2 linked regions of the Homo sapiens genome follow. The protein of the gene in region 2 purifies or fractionates together with the protein of the main gene of each other region. This does not show direct contact. Each region holds a gene or a part of one and is shown on either strand. Other genes may lie near its edges.

The links.
Region 1: the proteins of TMEM220 (region 2) and COX6B1 purify together in Homo sapiens (affinity purification with mass spectrometry; 2 studies listed by BioGRID and IntAct, with this or other methods). This does not show direct contact.

What each region holds. Positions count from the first base shown.
Region 1 is NC_000019.10:35,643,845-35,651,322, reverse strand, and holds the start of COX6B1 (cytochrome c oxidase subunit 6B1), read right to left. Parts: upstream 3,001-7,478; 5' UTR 2,920-3,000; intron 91-2,919; 5' UTR 80-90; coding exon 1-79. Other genes in the region: ETV2 (ETS translocation variant 2), read right to left, coding at 6,471-6,671, 6,976-7,088. UniProt on the Homo sapiens protein: Component of the cytochrome c oxidase, the last enzyme in the mitochondrial electron transport chain which drives oxidative phosphorylation.
Region 2 is NC_000017.11:10,725,434-10,737,744, forward strand, and holds the start of TMEM220 (transmembrane protein 220), read right to left. Parts: upstream 4,591-12,311; 5' UTR 4,419-4,590; coding exon 4,347-4,418; exon of another isoform or gene 4,344-4,346; intron 3,628-4,343; coding exon 3,598-3,627; intron 832-3,597; coding exon 771-831; intron 1-770.

The sequences.
Region 1 (7,478 bases), on a different chromosome or scaffold from region 2:
TCTGGTTCTGGTTGGGGAAGCGGCTGTCAAAAGGGGCGGTCTTGTAGTTCTTGATTTTGGTCTCCATGTCTTCCGCCATGGTGCTGAATCCTGGAGGCGAAAGGAGTGGGTGTCAGCAGGGGCCCCAGGGGCCCTGAGCAAGCCAGACTACCCAGGATCAATGGAAGAGGGCAGGCACGGAACAATGGGCTGGGTGTGAACAAGTTCCTGCCTCTCAACATACACAGAGATGAGGGGCAGGGCGAATCCACACATCTGAGTGTCGAGGTCGCGGCAGGGTTGGGGTACAACTCCTCAGCAAAATCAAGCCTGGTCCCCAAATAACATGAGCTAACACTCACTGAGTGCTTACTACATGCCAGGCGCTGTTCTACACACTTTACTCCTATAGCCACTCTAAAAGGTAGGAACTATTACTATCACCATTGCCCAGACGAGGAAGGAACAGGGTGTCTAAGTGACTTCCTACGGTTAAACGGCATAAAAATAACTGGTGGGCTGCCTCCGTTGTTGGCATAATCTACACTGCAAAGATTCTTAATCTTTTTGGTGCCACAAACTCCTCAGCAGTCTGATGAATCCCAGAAACCTCTCGCTGAATGTTTTTTTTTTTCTTTTTTTAAGACAGAGTCTTGCTCTGTCACCCAGGCTCACTGGTACGACCTAGGCTCACTGCAAACTCCGCCTCCAAGATTCAAGCAATTCTGTTGCCTCAGCCTCCCGAACAGCTGAGATTACAGGCGCCTGCCACCATGCCCTGCTAATTTTTTTGTATTTTAGACAAGGTTTTACCATGTTGGTCAGACTGCTCTCCAACTTCTGACCTCAAATGATCTGCCCGGCTTGGCCTCCCAAAATGTTGAGATTACAGAACGGAGACACCAAACCCGGCCTGAATATGTTTAAATGTATTTAAAAATTGCATAGGCTCCATGAGTACATGAAGTGAAAAAAACCTGCACAGCATCACAAAGAAAAGCAGTTATATCCAGCTGAGGATTCATTAAGGAATACAATTTTCGCCGGGTGCGGTGGCTCACGCCTGTAATCCTAGCACTTTGGGAGGCCAGGGGGGTGGATCACCTGAGGTCAGGAGTTCAAGACCAGCCTGGCCAACATGGTGAAACCCTGGCTCTACTAAAAATATAAAAATCAGCTGGGTGTGGTGGCAGGTGCCTATAATCCCAGCTACTCTGGATGTTGAGGCAAAAGAATCGCTTAAACCCAGGAGGCGGAGGTTGTAGTGAGCCGAGATTGTGCCAGTGCACTCCAACCTGGGCAACAGAGCAAAAACACTGTCTCAAAAAAAAAAAAAAATACAATTTTGAAGTAATCATGAATGAATATAGTATTTTGTGACATTTGCTGTTATAATGTGGTATAAGAATACCTGTGATTTTGGGTGGAGCACAATGGTTCACACCTGTAATCCCAGCACTTTGGAATGCTGAGGTGGGAGGATCGCTTGAGCCCAGGAGTTCAAGACCAGCCTGGGCAACATGGTGAAACCCCATCTCATCTCTACAAAAAAAATATTAAAATTGGCCGGAAGAGGTGGCTCACGCCTGTAATCCCAGCACTTTGGGAAGCCGAGGTGGGTGGATCACCTGAGGTCAGGAGTTCAAGACCAGCTTGGCCAATATGGTGAAACCCCATCTCTACTAAAAATACAAAAAATTAGCTGGGCATGGTGGCGTGCACCTGTAATCCCAGCTACCAGGGAGGCTGGGGCAGGAGAATCACTTGAACCCAAGAGGCGGAGGTTGCAGTGAGCCGAGATTGTGCCATTGTACTCCAGCCTGGGCGATACAGCAAGATCTTGTCTCAAAAAAAAAAAAAAAAATTAAAATTAGCCAGGTGTGGTGGCGCGTGCCTGTGGTCCCAGCTACTGAGGCAGGATCGCTTGCACAGGGAAGCAGAGGTTGCAGTGAGCCAAGATTTCTCCACTGCACGCCAGCCTGGGTGACACAGTGACCCTGTCTCAAAAAAGGAGAAAAACAAAAAAAAGGAATGTCTATGATTTTCATTGCTAACAAAATCACCGCTGCTGCTAGTACTACCGAGGTTGCTGCCTCAAAAGGTTAGTAAAAACACAGATGCAATTCCACCCCCCACCCCAATTCAAGTACTAGCATTCCTTGAATTCTACCAACTCTGCGGACCCAGGGTTAAACACCTTTAATATAATGTCTCTGAAGAAGTGACAGTGTTCGTCGGGAGCCTGAGAGAAAAGTATCTATATTCCAGGGAATCCTAGGAGTCGTGGGGCTATACAGAGACTTGCAGAGCAGTGTCAAATTCAAGCGACGCAAGGTGGTGGTGGGGGTCTGGAGCACTAAAACAGTCTTTCGGTGGGGAAGTGGGGTGTAAAACACCAGCTGCTGGGGCACAGACGCAGTAGGAAGGATCGTTACCGGCGAGATCTCTACCCGGTATCTGAGGATGAGGGTGCATCGGAGATGACGCTGCGGCCCCTCCAACGTCCAAAAGGGAGGATGGACTGGACACCCGGGAGCCAGGCTGCGGCCCAGGCAAGCCGCGAGAGGCCACGCCTGTGAATTAGCCATGAAGAGCCCTGGAGGACAAACTCCTGGGCCAAATCCTGGTCGCTGTGTAGGTTCAGCTAGGTCGCTTGGTATCTCTGAGCCTGTTTACTGACAAAAGGGGATAATCGCAGGCCCTATCTCATAGGGCTGGTGGGAGAGTTAAATAAATTAATTAAAGTTGTTTGGGATGTTGCCTGGCATCAAGGAAGAACCGTATCATTGTTAGCTCTTACGATGAACAGAACAGGGCCCCGGGGTCCAGGGAGGCCGGACGCCGCCAGCCGGAAGCCTCAACCCGTTCTCAGGGAAGCTGGGGTCCGGCTCCTCAGCCCGCTAGACTGGGGTCCCAGGTTACAGAACCCTCCACACTCACCTAAAGGCACCCCGGATTCAACCTGCAGCTCAATGTGACCCTCAGCAAAGACACCACAGTCGGACAGGAAGCGGAACTACTACCAGCCGGAAGCTGAGAGAGGTGGGGACTACGGGAGTCTTGCGAGCGGCTTCAGCTCCCTCCCAGGAGGAGGCCACTGAAGTCATTCAAGCCACGCCCAGCAAGAGAACTACGACTTTCTATTGGGCTAAATGCTTGTTCATCCTCACTTCTGGCCCAATCGTGAGCTTGCGCGGCTGGGGCTCGGGCGCCCGTGGGTTACCCGATCTCATCACCTCTGTGTCTTCACTCGGAGAGAGTGTTATAGATCCCGGGGCTGGCTGGAGGGTAGGTGTGGAGAAAAATGTCCCAGCGAAAGTACTTTTATTCATGCAAGAAATATTTATTGAACGCTTTTTCTGTGTCAGGTATTTCTTTTCTTTAAATTTTTTTTTTCTTTTTTTTAAATTTTTGAGACAGGGTCTTACTCTATGGCCCAGGCTGGAGTGCAGTAGCGCGATCTCAGCTCACTGCAACCTCCGCCTCCTGGGTTCAAGCGATTCTCCCGCCTCATCCTCCCGAGTAGCTGGGATTACAGATGCGCACCGCTACTCCTGGATATATATATGCATTTTATAGAGATGGGGTCTTGCTGTGTTACCCAGGCTGGACTCGAACTCCTGGTCTCTAAGCGATCCTCCCGCCTCGGCCTTCCAAAGCGTTAGGATTACCGGCGTGACCCACCGTATCCAGCCATCAGGCACTTTACGGGTTGAGAAAGCACGCTGCACAAAACACAAAAATCCCTACCCTTAAAATATATATATAGAGAGAGAGACGGAGTCTCACTCTGTCGCCCAGGCTGGAGTGCAGTGGCACGAACTTGGCTCACTGCAACCTGCGTCTACTCGGTTCAAGCGATTCTCCTGCCTCAGCCTCCCGAGTAGGTGCGATTACAAGCGCACGCCACCACTCCCGGCTAATTTTGGTATTTTTGGTAGAGATGGGATTTCACCATGTTGGTCAGGTTGGTCTTGAACTCCTGACCTCAGGTGATCTGCCCACCTCGGCCTCCCAAAATGCTGGGATTACAGGCGTGAGCTGCCCTACCTGGCCAATTTGGCTTTTTTTTTTTTTTTTTTTTTTTTTTTTTCAGACAGAGTTTTGCTCTTGTTGCCCAGGCTGGAGTGCAGTGGTGTGATCTTGGCTCACTGCAACCTCCACCTCCCGAGCTAGAGCGATTCTTCTGCCTCAGCCTCCCCAGTAGCTGGGATTACAGGCATGCGCCACCACACCTGGCTAATTTTGTATTTTTAGTAGAGATGCGGTTTGTCCATGTTGGTCAGGCTGGTCTTGAACTTTTGACCTCAGGTGATCTGCCCGCCTTGGCCTTCCAAAGTGCTGGGATTACAGGCGTGAGCCACCGTGCCCGGCTATATCTGTTCTTTTACATTATGTTTACCTCTTTTTGCCTCCCTCAACAGAAAAGAATTATCATAAAGGAAGAATTTTTGTCTGCCTTATTCATTCACCATTGTATCTAAAGCAGTGCCTGGCACACAGGAAGTGGTCTATAAATATTTGCTGAATGCAAGAATTTCTTGTGGAAATGAAGGAAGCATCTAGGGACTAGGAGAGGGAGCTATGAAAGAGAACTGCTTTCCTTCCTCCCCCATCTGGCCTCTAAAGCCTCTCACATACCATCTGGGGTGCAGTGTCCAGATGGAATTGGGTCAGGGACCTCTTCTTACACATTCTGTGTCCATCAACATTGTGATTATTTGTGGAATTACCTGTTTACATGCATGTATTCATCCCCTGCAATGAGATCTTCCTAAAATCCAAATCCCTTTCCCTGCTTAAAACCCCTTGATGGGGGCCAGGCACGGTGGCTCACTCCTATAATCCCAGCACTTTGGGTGGCCAAGGCAGGCGGATCACCTGAGGTCAGGAGTTCAAGACCAGCCTGACCAACACGGTGCAACCCCATCTTTACTAAAAATACAAAAATTAGCTGTGCGTGGTGGTGTGCACCTGTAATCCCAGCTATTTGGGAGGCTGAGGCAGGAGAATTGCTTGAACCTGGGAGTCGGAGGTTGCAGTGAGCTGAAATTGCATCACTGCACTCCAGCCAGAGTGACAGAGTGAGACTCCATCTCAAAAAACAAACAAACAAACAAAACCCTTGATGGCTCCCCAGGAGCCCTGGAGACAAAGTCCAGGCTCCTCACCACGGCCCACAGATCCTTTATGAATTGGTCCCTGTTGCTGCTGTAGCCACGTTTATTTTTAATTTTTTAAATAGAGATGGGGGTCTCCCCTATGTTGCTCAGGCTGGTCTGGAACTCCTGGCCTCAAGGCATCCTCCTGCCTCAGCCTTCCAAAATGCTGAGATTACAGGTGTGAGCCACTATGCCTGGCCCACACTGATAGTTTTGAGCAGTGGTATGAGATCGTCTGCCTCTGGGCCTTTGATCTTGTTGTTCCTTCTGCCTGAAACATTCTTTGCCTACCTGACTTCTCAAATCAGCTGTCTCCTCCTCCAGGGAGTCTCCCCTGACCCTTCTCCTCCTGGGCTAGATCAGGTCTCTCCTTTTGGCCTCCCTCAGTCCCCTGGAGTCTTCTCATCCCAGGTCAAAACACTCTGATGATGGGTCTGTCTTCCCACTGGACTGTGAGCTCCTTAAGGGGAGGGTCCAGGGCTGTCTTGGTCCCTGCTGTATCCCCCGCATCGCTCACAGACAGCAGGCTCTCTTTAGGGGCTCAGTGGCTCTCAGAATGGCGTAGGCTCTCTTTACAGTGTAGGTCTGAGTCCTGTGTCCTCCAGCTTGGAGTGGGGAAAGAGTGAGTGGTGTTGGGGTGCAAGCACTAGTTTTAATTCTTTGATGATCCCTTGCACTGGGAGGACACACAGCACAGTAAGCCCTTTTCAGGGTCTGAGTCTTCTCTTCAAGGGGACACAGCAGATATACTCTCATGATTGGGTCTGATTCCTTTACAAATCCCGACACAGGGCAGGGACACAGTAGGCCCTATGGGCTTTGGGTTTAGTTTCTTTGCCTCTCTCATCACAGGGCGGGCACATGGCAGGCTCCCTGAGTCTGGGTCTCCTTTGATCATTGCGCAGCACTGGAGGTGGGTGGTTCCTCATCCCAAAACTAACCACCGAGGAGGGAGGTCCGCGAAGATTGCGGAGGGAGTGAAGGCGGAGTCGAGAGGCGGGGCCTAAGGGGGCGGGACCGGGGAAACTGACAGCGTGGGGCGGGGCTTAGGGACCTGGGAGCTTAAGGGACTTGGGGCTGGTGGCCCGCACTTCAGGGTCTTCAGGGAGAAGAGGACTAAGACACTGCAGTCTTTTAGCGAGCAAGGATCCAGGCCTCTGGATCATGTGAGAGGAAAGAGATGAAGGCCCAGACGCCTGGGTCTCCGAGGTGGGGAGGCCAAATTCCAACATGTGGAGCTGCACACTTAGGCTCCCTAGCTGCTGTAGTCAGTATCAGCGGGAAGAATGCTGCAGAGGAGCACGCGCGAAGAGGTTTGACCGGGAATTTTTATTGTGTCTCTGCTCCCCGTCCGCCTCCCGCACAGTCCGGATAGGCTAGGCTGGGCACGCGGCCCCCGAAGCGGTACGTGTACTTTCGCCCCCCGCTCTTGCGCACGATGTCGCGGCGATAGTAGTAGCGAAGGCCCCGGCTCAGCTTCTCGTAATTCATGCCCGGCTTTCTCTTGCGCTCGCCCCACAGCCGAGCCACCTAGGACAGAGGCCCGCTCGGTCGGAGTGGGAAGGGGCGGGGCTTGGCGATAGTGGGGAGGGCCGGGCCTGGGGGCGGTGTGCAGTGCAGACCTGGGCGAGGCCTCGCAGAGCCCGGTGGAGACTGGGTTGGTTGAGGCAGGAGTACAGGCGGGAGATTGGGTTTGAGAAGGGTTGGGCGGGGCCTCGAGTGGGCCGGGGAGCGGCGGGGCCGAGGGCTACGCGGTTGAACCTAGCCCTTGGGCGGAGCTAAATTGAACTAGAAGAGACGGGGCGGATTTGGCTGGGCAGGGGAGCTGCCCCACCTCTTTGGGGTCGCACAGCTGGAACTCGCGGCTGTTGCCAGTCCAACGGATGCAGCTGCTACGCGCCCCGTCGTGGAGCAGCTCCAGGAGGAACTGCCACAGCTGAATGGGACCTGCGGGATGAAGGGAGGGGCACACTCAGTCTTCCCGGCCCTAGATCACACCACTTCAATGATCTAGAGGTCCGGGTCCTCCCAACTCGGGACCCAGGACCCGAGAAGGGGATCCGCCCCCCCTTCTCTGAGATCCAACAGTCAGCCTTGGAGACTCAAGCGTCCAGGGCCCCAGTCTCAGAGATTTAGGAGTTTGGCCTCCCCATCTCGGAGACCCAGGAATCTGGGCCTTTATCGCTTTCGTTTTATATAATCCAGGAGCCTGGGTCCTCATCCCCTTGGTCCCTATAAGACTACCAGTTTCTTAGCCCTCTCCTCCCCAAGGACCTGGAGTGCGGGCCACCGGCCCCTCCTTCGAGCCCCTGGTCCCTAAGCCCCCGCCCCCTCACT
Region 2 (12,311 bases):
TGGCTAGGTCAATCAATACATGTTATCTCCTCAGCCACAGTGATTTGGATCAGCACAAACGGACAAGCAATCAGAGCCAGCAACTGCATTCTGAGACTTTGGTAGAGTGAAGAAACACAGTCCATATTCCACTGGACGTGGCATCGTGAAGATGTGAATGGGGGGCTGCAGGGCCACTGTGTGGAGCCCAAGAGTGAAGTTAGCATGACAGATGGTGGAACTGAGAGGTGGAGAGAAGGTAAAGTTCCGAGTCCACCAGTCTGAAGCCAGCACCACCCTTCACCTTTTCAGTAAACTGTACCAATACCTTTTCTTCTCAGCTCATAGCACATTTGAGTTATTTTCTAGCTTGTATCTAAAGGAGCCCTAACTGATCTACCTTAAAGATGCAGACGGAGTTCTAGCTGCCTATACAAGGAGCCCAGGCATCTAGGGAACTAGAATTTTCCCCACTAAGGTGGGACTCATTAGTCTTTATTCTAAGGCCCCTGAGAACATTCGAGCCCCACTAGGAGAAACTGTTTTAAAGAAAGTGAAGAAGAATCTGTCCTCTCACTTCTATAAAACAGAAGACGCTGTTTTATAGCAGATCCTTCTGACGTTTTCCTGAAGATGGGTAAGGATGATTAGAATTAGCCCCTTTTATTATCAGAAATGAGAAGAAAGGCCTAGAGAGCCCCGTTTTACTCCTGGGAGTTGGGCAGATAGACCCTCATTATTATGAGGAAATCTGATTTGCTGTCTCTCCATTTAGAATGCAAGGCTTATACCTGTGACTTCAGGGTTAAGTCCAACAAGCAGGGTCAGTACTGCAGGGATTGTGTACACCACCTGTTAGCAAAAAGGGAGGAAATTACATGAGTTAAGATGTATGCCCAATATATGAGATGTTCAGAGATACAGGAAGTAAAGAAAGATGAGATCAGTGGCTGCTGTGCCCCATGATTTGCCTCTAAGTTTCAATGGTGATTGAGAAAGTGGTAGATTCTCCTTTTGTGGCACTTAGCACGTCTGCCTGCAATTTTATCTACCTTCCTCCTAGACTATAGGCTATTCCAGAAGCTCATTTATCTTTGAGCTCTAACACTGAGCACAGGGTTTTGGTCTTAAGACACACTAACTTTCCAGTCGCTCCCAAGCAACTTTCATGCCCAAATGGCCTTTCCCCACTTGCATAAAAGAAAATGTTCTTTGAAAAGTAGGGCAGGAGCAGCCACGATGCTAGATGGCCCTGCTGGCTTTGGACCCAATGGACCATCCAGGCCAGTACTGCATCTCTGTGAGACCACAGAAAGTTTTCTAATAATGCATACACAATCAGCTGTGCCCAGTAATAAGGTCAGGCTCTTCATTTTGGAACTGCTGATAAGTGTTTGGAAATGAGAAGACTAGCCCTAAAGAGGCCCTATTCCTAAGCCTTGTTCATAACAAGCAGGCTCTAGCCAAACTTACTATTGTGTGTGTTGTTGGCAGGGAATAAGTAGGGAGGGTGGGTTTATAAGAAGGATGGGGACTTTCCAAACAATGTAGCTGTCTAATCACATCAATTTCTGTGCTTATATCAGAAGATGTTAAGGCAGGTGCCAGGGGTCCATGTGGGAGGTAGTGGAGGGCTGAACTGTGAATGAGGGAGGATGTCTATGGGGACATGGGGTCTATTCCTCCTATTATATCGTCTGAGCATGAATGAAAGGTAAAATGTGCAGGTACTATAGAGATAAGCAATTAGACCTCGATTGTTTAATTAATTTTTTGGAGATGGGGGGGGTCTCGCTATGTTGCACAGGCTGGCCTCGAACTCCTGGGCTCAAGTGAGCCTCCTGCCTCAGCCTCTTGAGTAACTGGGACTACGGATGCCTGCCACCATGCCCGACTCAAATTTATTTTGTGTTTTGAGGGGCTCTCCAAGGCAGTGGTAAGGAACAGAGAGATGATAAAGATGACTGAGATTCTGAACAAGAATGACTCAGAGAATGATTCTGCTGATAACAGAAATGGGTGAGTCAGGATAAGTAGATTTTGGAGGGAAAGATGCTAGGTAGGTCCTTGGGCATATCTGAGGAGCAGTGTGACATGCAGGTGAATATACGCAGCAGTCTTTTGGAAATTCACCATTAAGCTGGATGTCTGAGACTTGTCTGCAGGGAAATAATATTTGGAATTCAAGATACGGACCAGGGTGCCAAGGCAAAGGCAGTTTGATTTGATTCAGAGGCATACTGATCTGGATAGTAAATATCAGAATGTGGTTTTACTGCACTAAAAAAACAAAACCTGGATAGAATTTCATGTTATAATTCCAGATACCATCATCCTTGTTGCTCCTCTGTCAATATTATTCTAAAGCTTAAGAGTCATCTCCTTGGTGTACTGTACAGTCTTGTGTATCTATATTGAGAGAAACTGGGCAAAATTCAGATATTTTGGAAGATAAAAGATATTTAGAGCCGGGCGCGGTGACTCATGTCTGTAATCCCAGCACTTTGGGAGGCTGAGGCAGGTGGATCACCTGAGGTCGAGAGTTCAAGACCAGCTTGACCAACATGGAGAAACCCTGTCTCTACTAAAAATACAAAATTAGCTGGGTGTGGTGGCGCATGCCTGTAATCCCAGTTACTTGGGACACTGAGGCAGAAGAATCACTCAAACCTGGGAGGTAGAGGTTGCGGTGAGCCTAGATTGCGCCATTGCACTCCAGCCTGGGCAACAAGAGCAAAACTCCGTCTCAAAAAGAAAAAAAAAAAAAGATATTTAGAAGATGTATGGAACAATGGCCCCCTCCTCCAAATGGTTCAAATCAGAGCCTTGCTTATATGAAGACTGTAGGTTTTACAGGATTTAATACTTTTCTTTGCTTTTTTTTTTTCTTTTTTTTCTTTGCTTTTTTTTTTTTGAGATGGAGTCTCACTCTGTCGCCCAGACTGGAGTGCAGTGGCACGATCTCAGCACACTGCAACTTCTGCCTCCTGGGTTCCAGCGAGTCTCCTGCTTCAGCTTCCCTAGTAGCTGGGGACTACAGGCGCATGCCACCACGCCTGGCTAATTTTTGTATTTTTTGGTGGAGACGGGGTTTCACCATGTTGCTCAGGCTGATCTAGAACTCCTGACCTCAAGTGATCCACCCGCCTTGGCCTCCCAGAGTGCTGAGATTGCAGGCGTGAGCCACCTTGCCCAGCCAGGAGTTAATACTTTCTAGAAATATAAGTCACTGAATTAGCAGAACCTCAGAACTTAAGCCTGTTATTTTCCGGTCAAAGGTTTGCATTGAGTGTCTGGCTAGAAACTCATAAGGAATTGTTCAACTGATCTTGAGAGGCCTACTCTAGGTCCTCAAGAAAGTCCTCAGTTGGGCCATCTAACCAAAGGGAATACTGCAGAAAGACCTGTTTCCAGAAAGTTCGAAATTCACACACACATTACATTAGAACTCTGATCCTGCCTATTAATATTTTAGGAAAAAGCGCTTCCCAAGGGTTTGATTTTTAAGTTTCTCAGAAAATTAAGCAGGGAGGAGGGGTAAAGACATAAAACCGTGTGTTTTGTGCCGTTCCCCAATTCTTCCAAACGGAGGAAAGCCTGGAAGCGGCTCATACTCACCACCCACACCTCTGCATCTGGGTCATTTACCTGGAACGCCAGAATACCAAGGTGTTAGCAGACATCCTGTGCTGTTCCATTCCTTTTAAATTCATTTAAGCACATTTTTTATTAATTTGTTAAGTGCCAGACACTGCAATAGGCATCGAGGGTACAAAATCTGAACAGGATATAGTCCAGATGAGGACGGGTGAAGGGGTTTCTGGCTGACACAACAGATGTTTTTAACAGGCAGCCACACATTTTTGAAAAGCCTTCACGGGAGCTCTGGAGAGGACTCGCCAACCCAGAACGGGTATTTTAAGGGCCCTCCACCCCCACCAGTCTCAAGAAATGAGGGAAATGATTATGAAGGGGGTCCCCAAGCCGACTAAAAAGTTTAATGATGCTATAAAGGGTTTTGGTCGGCTTCGTCTCCTAGGCCCTGAGATATGTTCAGTGTCGTCCGCGGGCCGGACGTTAACGCAGGAGCCAGGGCCGCTTCTTCTGAGGTCCCCTGGGAAGTTCCACGCGCGGAACCAGCCCCTTCCAGGGTGTGAGCCCTGGTATGGGACTCGCTTCCATGAACACATCCGCGTCTCTTAGACGGGGGAGAAAGTGGGGGCTCCCCAAGCAGAAAGCCCAAGTCCCGTCCTCCCCACTAACTGTGCGCCCCTGCGACTCTGCCCGCTAGTCAGTTACACGGCCCGCTAGGCCAGGGGGCGGAGCTGGGAGCCGGGCGGGTCCCCCTCCCACCGCGGCCGCCTGACCTGCACCAAGGCCGCCAGCGCGAAGAAGGCGGCCATGAGTCCGTTGCAGGCCCGCCACAGCGCTGGCGCCATGGCTCGGAGAACACGGCGCGGGGCGGTGAGTCCTGCCACGTGCGGGGCGGTGAGTCCTGCCACGTACGGTCCGCCTTCCTCCTTGCGCGGAGGGACCGAGACCCCCGCCTCGGTTTCGGTGCCTTGGGGACACTGCCGTGGCCGTCGCTCCGCCCGGGGGCGGGGAGCGAAGGGCGTGGGTGTAGCCCCCACTCAGCGACCCATTCAGCCCGCCCCGAACGCCGCGGGGTGTAGGCGGCGCCGTCCTGGTTTCGCGGATGGGAAAGCGAGTCCCTCAGGGAGCGCAGGTCTCGGTGGTGGACGGAAGTCGAATTTGAACCCGTATAGGTTCAACTCCAAACCCTGTTTTCACTAAAGCTACCTTCCTCACAAAAAAAAAAAAAAAGAAGAAAGAAAAAAAAGAAGGAAAAAAGGAAGGAAGGCAGGCGGGAGGGGAGAGAGGAAGAAAGAGAAAGAAAGAAAAAGAAAGAAGGAAAGAAAGGGCTGGGCGCAGTGGCTCACGCCTGTAATCCCAGCACTGTGGGAGGCCGAGGTGGGCGGATCACCTGAGGTCAGGAGTTCGAAAGCAGCCTGGCCAACATGGTGAAACCCCGTATCTCTACTAAAAATACGAAAAAATTAGTCGGGCGTGGTGGCGGGAGCCTGTAATCCCAGCTACTCAGGAGGCTGAGGCAGGAGAATTGCTTGAACCCGGGCGGCGGAGGTTGCAGTGAGCCCAGATTGTGCCACTGCACTCCAGCCTGGGCAACAAAGCGAGACTCCTCAAAAAAAAAAGGATAAAAATTGTTTTTACAAAAATAAGAAAGAGAAAGAAAAAGAGATGTGTGTGTGTGTGTGTGTGTGTGTGTGTGTGTGTGTGTGTGTGTTCTGTTTAGTATTTATGCATTTCCTTCCAAAGCTCAGGAACTTTCAAATCCCTGTAAGCATTATGGTAATTTCTAGAGTGACGACAGTTATATTAACATCTTATACGGCTCACAGCTTTTCGGCAGACAGGCTCATTTATCTTCATGGGCTTTTATTATAAAAGATATTTACATATTATACATATTTACAATTCTCTCCCACCACCAAAACCAACAAAATTTCCAAAATTGCTCATGAATTTCTTATGAACCGAAGACACTGAAATATTCACTGTTCTCCCCTAGTCTGTCTGGTCTTTTTCTGTTTTGTAATTCGCCCTTCTGCTTAGTTCCTCCCCGGGCTCATTTACACATCCATAGGCCTCATTTCTGCTGTTCTAAAGAGTCTTTATCGCTTCAAATCAGGAGCTTCTGTGCCTGTCCTCTTTTCCTTTGAGCTAAATCTCCTAAAACTGTCTAGTTTTTTTTTTCTTTCCCTCTCAGTTTCATTCTTTTCACGAAACACTTATTTCAAGAACGTTGTCTGCTCTGTGCCTGGTGCTGGGACCGTGAAGGTCCCGTGCCGGGACTAGGCAGGGAGCCTGGCGGCTGGCGGGGGTGGGCACCCGTGTTTGCAGAGGTGGGGTGGGGACAGCGGGGACCAGCACTGGGTGGAGTTCCACAGCTAAATCAGCCCTGGGATTGGAAACAAGCGAAGACTATTCTCACTGTGCTTTTCCTTACATAAAAGAAAAAAATGAGAGCGAGAGTGCTAGGGGCTGACTTGCATTCCCCCTGCACCCCCAATTCATATGCTGAAGCCCTAACCCCCAGTGCCTCAAAATGGGACTGCATTTGCAGACAGGGACTTGACAGAGATGATTAAGTTAAAATGAGGTTATAGGGTGGACCCTAATCCAATATGACTAGTGTCCTGATACGAAGAGGGGACAGTTACAGAGGGAAGACCACATGGGCACACAGGGAGAAGACGGCCGTCTGCAAGCCAAGGGGAGAGGCCTCATGAGAAACCAACCCTACCAACATCCTGAATTTGGACTTCCAGCCTCCAGAACTGTGAGAAAATAAATTTCCGTTGTTTAAGCCACCTAGACTGTGGTACTTTGTTGGGACAGTCCTAGCAAATTAATACAGGGAATGATTATAATACCCACAAGGAAACAATGGCATGGAAGTGCTTTTAAGCTCTTGAATGCCATACAACCACCATGAAGTTTTATAGTTTTCACTGTTGTCTGGGACTTTCTTTTTTTATTTCTATTTTTTTGAGACAAAGTCTTGCTCTGTTGCCCAGGCTGGAGTGCAGTGGCACGATCTCAGCTCACTGCAACCTCTGCCTCCTGGGTTCAAGTGATTCTCCTGCCTCAGCCTCCAGAGTAGCTGGGACTACAGGCGCCCACCACCATGCTGGGCTAATTTTTGTATTTTTTTTAGTAGAGATGGAGTTTCACCATATTGGCCAGGCTGGTCTCGAATTCCTGACCTCATGATCTGCCTGCCTCGGCCTCCCACAGTGCTGGGATTACAGGCATGAGCCACTGCACCCGGCTGGGACTTTCAAAGTCACCTTAGTGAGCGTCTGTTGGTTTTGCCTTTGCAGGGTTCAGTCCCCTTTCTTCGAGGATCAGTGTCTTTAGTACTGTGGATTACCACATGCACTATGGGTGGATGTGGACTACAGGGTTGACCGTGCTCCCCTCCTTTTGGGGATAGGCAGGTGACTTTGGCCTGCCAGCTGACATATCCCATTCTGTTGACCACTGTGATTGGGTCTAGGATGGGTATAGGATCCAAATTGCCCAGATTCAATCCTAGGACCTATATGGGACTTAGGTTGTCAGTAAAGGACAACCTCAGTTGAACTGAATTTTGGATCATCAATGATGTGTTCCAAATATTTGCTAAATCTGGCAATCCTACTCACACTATTAAAGAGAAGCTTTCTTTGTGATGAATGTGTAGAGCTGGTAGAATGTGAGCCTGGAGCTGTCAGGAGAAAGCCTCACAGGGAGAAAGGCTTTCTGCAGGTGAAGTTTAAAAGCCTGGATCCAGCCATGCCTGAAAATGGAAGAATCTCACAACCAACAGAGTCTCTTCTTTACATAAGCCCGTGTGAATTGGGTTTTTGTAATTTGCAACAAAGAATGATGACTTGTAAAGTCATGATTCAATAGTTAAGGCAATGTGTGAAATCCTTGCAAACCTCCTGCTATAGGTTTGTCCAGGCTTTGCAGAGACACGGAAGAGAAGGCTTAGTCTGAAAAGTAATGAAAAATACGTTTAAATGAATCCAATATCTCAGACAGCTCTGCTTGAAGAGTAATTTCATTTCCCTTTTTAGCAAAAGGCTATGATACAATACTGCAGAGAAGATGAGGTTTTAAAGGCAGTAGGGTCTTGTCAAAGCTGGCTTCCCTCTGCAGAAAGGGCAGCACAAAGGACCCTTCATCCTGCTGGACACTCCCTGGCTGCCCAGTCAGTGACAGCATCATAAAAGCAATTGAGCCACAGGAGTGAGGTGAGCTGGACTCACTTCCCCGCTGGAATCCGAGAATGGCTGGACATCTGCCCTCTGAGAACTTGGAAATAGAGGTGCTTGCTTATTCCCTGAGAGTAGGGTTGTTAATCCAATGCTAAGAGTTGGAGCAGAGACAGGAAGCTCATATAAAGACACAAATGGCCTCCCAGGGTCACAGGATTGAGAGAGAGAAAATGAATGCATGAAAGTACGTAAAAGAAGAATGTCAGCAAAGGAGGATTGATGGGCTTGGAGGCTTCAAGTTAGGTCATCTGAAAGGCAAGCGTAGACCAAGTCCATCCTCACACAGACTGGAGAGAGTGCTTTGCTCCACCAGATGTGGACACTCACATTTCTTGGTCGGGCCAACCTCTTTGGGGCTTATGTGGGTTGAAAATTTCACAGGCTCAACCCTCCCCTTGCTGTGATTCCAGAAGGCCAATTTTGGAGACTTTGGCTTCCCACCTAGCTGGCCTACAGAGTGGAGAACATGTGGCTCTCTGAGCCAGGTGCATTTCAAAGTGTGTATCAATGGAATGCCCATGCCATTCTCTTTTATAGACTTGTTTTCCTTTTAGTAGTCTCCATTATCTGTCCTTCCAGGTGTGGTCAGCTACTCCGGAATGTGGCAGGGGTGGAGGCCGGACAAAGTCTGAAACAGGGTCATCACCAGTGAGTGGCTCCTGCCTGTGCTCTATGTCCAGAGTGTGTGTGTGCTGGTGATGCTCCCAAGGTGACATATTGGGAACAAGGATTACAAGGATCAGAAACTGCTGCCCATGCCGTCTACCTCCCTCTGTCCAGCACACCAGATCAGCAAAGGCCAAGCCATGCTGTCTCCAGGCTCTGCTGATTCCATGTGAATGAAGTGTTGGGGCAGGAAAGGGTTGGAACAGAACAGTGGAGGAATTCTACTAGGAGCAGTGGACGAATTCTACTAGGAGCTAGACAGCCTTCTGCTAAAATATTTGAAATCAGAAAAGCACCTCGCCACGGCAAGGATTGATTTGCTTCTACAAAACCCATCTAGTCTCTATGAAGGACTTGGGTTTCTACTGTTAGCAAAATATAGCCCGTGTTATGAAAGTCTTAAAGCTTACGCATATTGATGGACAATGAAAAACACTTGGCTTGAATAATGTTCCTCAAATATCCCCTTATGCCACTGAAAGGAGAATATGGTTAAATGAACCCTCTGCGTGTATTTATATCCACCCTATTCATTGGCATGAAACACTCAGTGAGCCATTTATTCTATCCATTTATTCTGTCCATTTATTCAAGACTTCCTACGTGTCAGGCACTATGCTAATAACTGAGGATGTGACTGTGACCTCACGGGACACGGTGTTTGCCCTTGTAGAGCTTACAGGCCAAACAATAATTACACGAATAGGTAGGGGTTCCAGCCAACAATGGTGGTGATGCTGAGAAGGAGAAGTGAGGCTGCTATGGGAATGTGTGAAACCAGAGAATCTGACCTCTTCCCAGGGGTTCCAGAAACCTCCTGAGGAGGTGATTTTCAGGTGTGCCCTGAAAGATGAATGGGTGAGGACAGGTGAAGACTTTATGGACCAGTGCTTAAAGCCGAGAGAGAAGTGCTTATGAGAAGACCAAATCCTGAAGGTCTTCAGGGCCTGGCAAAGAATGAGAGTACAAGTAGACATAGATGAGGCTAGCACAATGCAGGTAAAGAGTTTGGTTTTATCCTGGCTGGGTGTGGTGGCTCACGCTTGTAATCCCAGCACTTTGGGAGGCCGAGGCAGATGGATCATCTGAGGTCAGGAGTTCAAGACCAGCCTGACCAACATGGTGAAACCCCATCTCTACTAAAAATACAAAATTAGCCAGGCACAGTGGCGCATGCCTATAGTCCCAGCTACTCAGGAGGCTGAGGCAGGAGAATCACCTGAACCCAAGAGGCGGAGGTTGCAGTGAGCCGAGATCACGCCATTGCACTCCAGCCTGGGCAACAGAGTGAAACTCCATCTCAAAAAAAAAAAAAAAAGTTTGGTTTTATCCCAAGTGTGCTGAAGAGCCCCTGGAGCACTGAGTGGGGAGAGCATGATGGGAGGTGTGCTTGGGCTGCCCCGTGGAGGAGGATGCACTGGGGAGAGCCCAGAGAAGAAGCAGAGACTGGCCATGAGGTGCTTGCAGTAGGCCAGGAGAGAGATGATGCTGGCCAGGGCTAACAGGGTAGCAGTGGCCATGGAGGGAAAGAAGCACGAATGAGTGACATTGGGGAGATAAAGTCAATCAGACTGTATGCAGGGAATAAAAAAATGCCTCCACTCCTTATGACAAAGTTAAGTTTTCAAGGCTGGGTGTGGTGGCTCACACCTGTAATCCCAGTACTTTGGGTGGTCAAAGTGAGAGGATCACTTGAGCCCAGGAGTTCAAGACATCCTGGGCAACAGAGCAAGACTCCATCTCTACAAAAAAATTTTAAAAAATTAGCTGGGTATGGTGGCATGTGCCTGTGGTCATAGCTTCTTGGGAGGCTGAGGCGGGAGGATTGCTTGAGTCCAGGAGCTCGAGGATGCAGTGAGCTGTGATTTGCACCACTGCATTCCAGCCTGGGTGACAGAGCAAGACCCCATTGAAAAAAAAAAAGGACTTTCAAAATCATACATGGCAGATTACACAATAAATAAAAATAATTGATAGAAAGTACTTAAAAAAACAAGTTTTTGATTCTGCATGGCTGAGAACAGACTGCAGAAGGTAGGTGAGCTCTTCAAGGGAATGGCAAAGCACTTCCCAGTGTTGCCTTTGCTCCGTCCAGAATCGCTGAGTGTCAGCCTGTGCTAGCACCTACCTGGCCTCAATTAGAGTCGCCTGATCTCCTTAGGTGGGACTGTGGATGCTCTTCTCCTTATACTTTCACTTTTTTTTTCCCTTTATGGAAATTCTTAGTTTTTTTTGGGTGTGTGGGTTTTTTTGTTTTTTTTTTTTTGAGACAGAGTTTCGCTCTTGCTGTCCAGCCTGGAATGCAATGGCAGGATCTTGGCTCACTGCAACCTCCACCTCCTGGGTTCAAGCGATTCTCCTGCCTCAGCCTCCCGAGAAGCTGGGATTACAGGCATGCGCCACCACACCCAGCTAATTTTTTTGTATTTTTAATAGAGATGGGGTTTCTCCATGTTGGTCAAGCTGGTCTTGAACTCCTAACCTTAGGTGATCCGCCCACCTCGGCCTCCCAAAGTGCTGGGATTACAGGCGTGAGCCACCGCACTTGGCTGGAAATTCTTAGTTTTAATCTCGCAATAATTGTTCTGTGTGTATGTGTGTTGTTCATGCTCCTAGACTATGCCACAAATTTCAGAAGGTAAGGACTATAACCTGTTAATTTTTTCTTCTCTCCAGTAGCACCTGACATACCTGGATATAAACAATATCCAAGGTGAGTGGGGATACAATGAAATGTTGTAGGAATATTGGGTTTGGTGGTGGGGGATGTAATAGGTAGCGTCTTGAATTTACTGAGTTAGGCAGTATTCTAATCACTTCATATATATTAACTCGTCTTGTGCCCACAACAGATCTATTAGGTAGATAGTACTATCATCCCCATTTTATGGATAGAGAAACAAAGGCATACACTAGCTTTTAAGTACCCTGGTTAAGCAATAAGTGAGTCAGAAATTAGACTTCTTCAAGCTCATGGTGAGGCCTTCTGCAGGTTTATGAAGGGAGTGAGTGAAGTGGGCTCTCTCTCCCATGAGAGTGGAGCATTTAACTCAACAGCTACCCTGTTTCCATGAACTGGAGAGGGTGGAAGGGGTCATCTGTAGACCAGGGGCTCAATTCTCCAAAGGCTGAAGGGGTGATGTTTGAGGTCCTCCTTTGATGCCATTCTTCTTATGTCTTAGCTATTTTAAAGACCAGGAAGATTCTCCACTCATGCCCTTGACTTTTAGAGCCAATTAGATGAAGCTGTATTTGGAGGTAGGAAGAGAAGTTGAGTGACTTTGAAGCCATCTTCTCTCTGATCTTGACTTTCTGATTTTGGCCTGGGCTGTTGGAATTGTATGTGTCCACAAGATGGCGGACTTCTGCTGGGAATGGAGTCGTGCGGGCATGGAACGAAGGAGGGGAGGAGGGAAGAGTGGGCTGTGCCTCCCCTTGGCTCTCCCAGGAAGCCTGTGATGTAGACTTCTGGGTGGGTACGAGGTTGGCATCAGCTGGAGGTGAAGAAGTGCAAACAGAGCTTTACACTTGATCTTAACCAATAGGCGGAGAAGTGATTCAAATAGAACTTTGTACCAGGAAATATTCATCCCCAAACAAGGGTGTTGCAAGAAAAGAGCTAAGCTTTGCTGTGGTGCTGGCAGAGCTTGAAACTGCCACCCCAGTACTCCAGGAAATTCAGATATGCTTGAGAGGAGCAATCACTTCTAATGTAGGCGTACTCTAAAAGTAAATGATGATAACAACTATGAATTGATGAGTATTTACTGTAAGCCCAGCTACGGCCCTTTCACCTCCTGATATCTGAAAGCCACCACA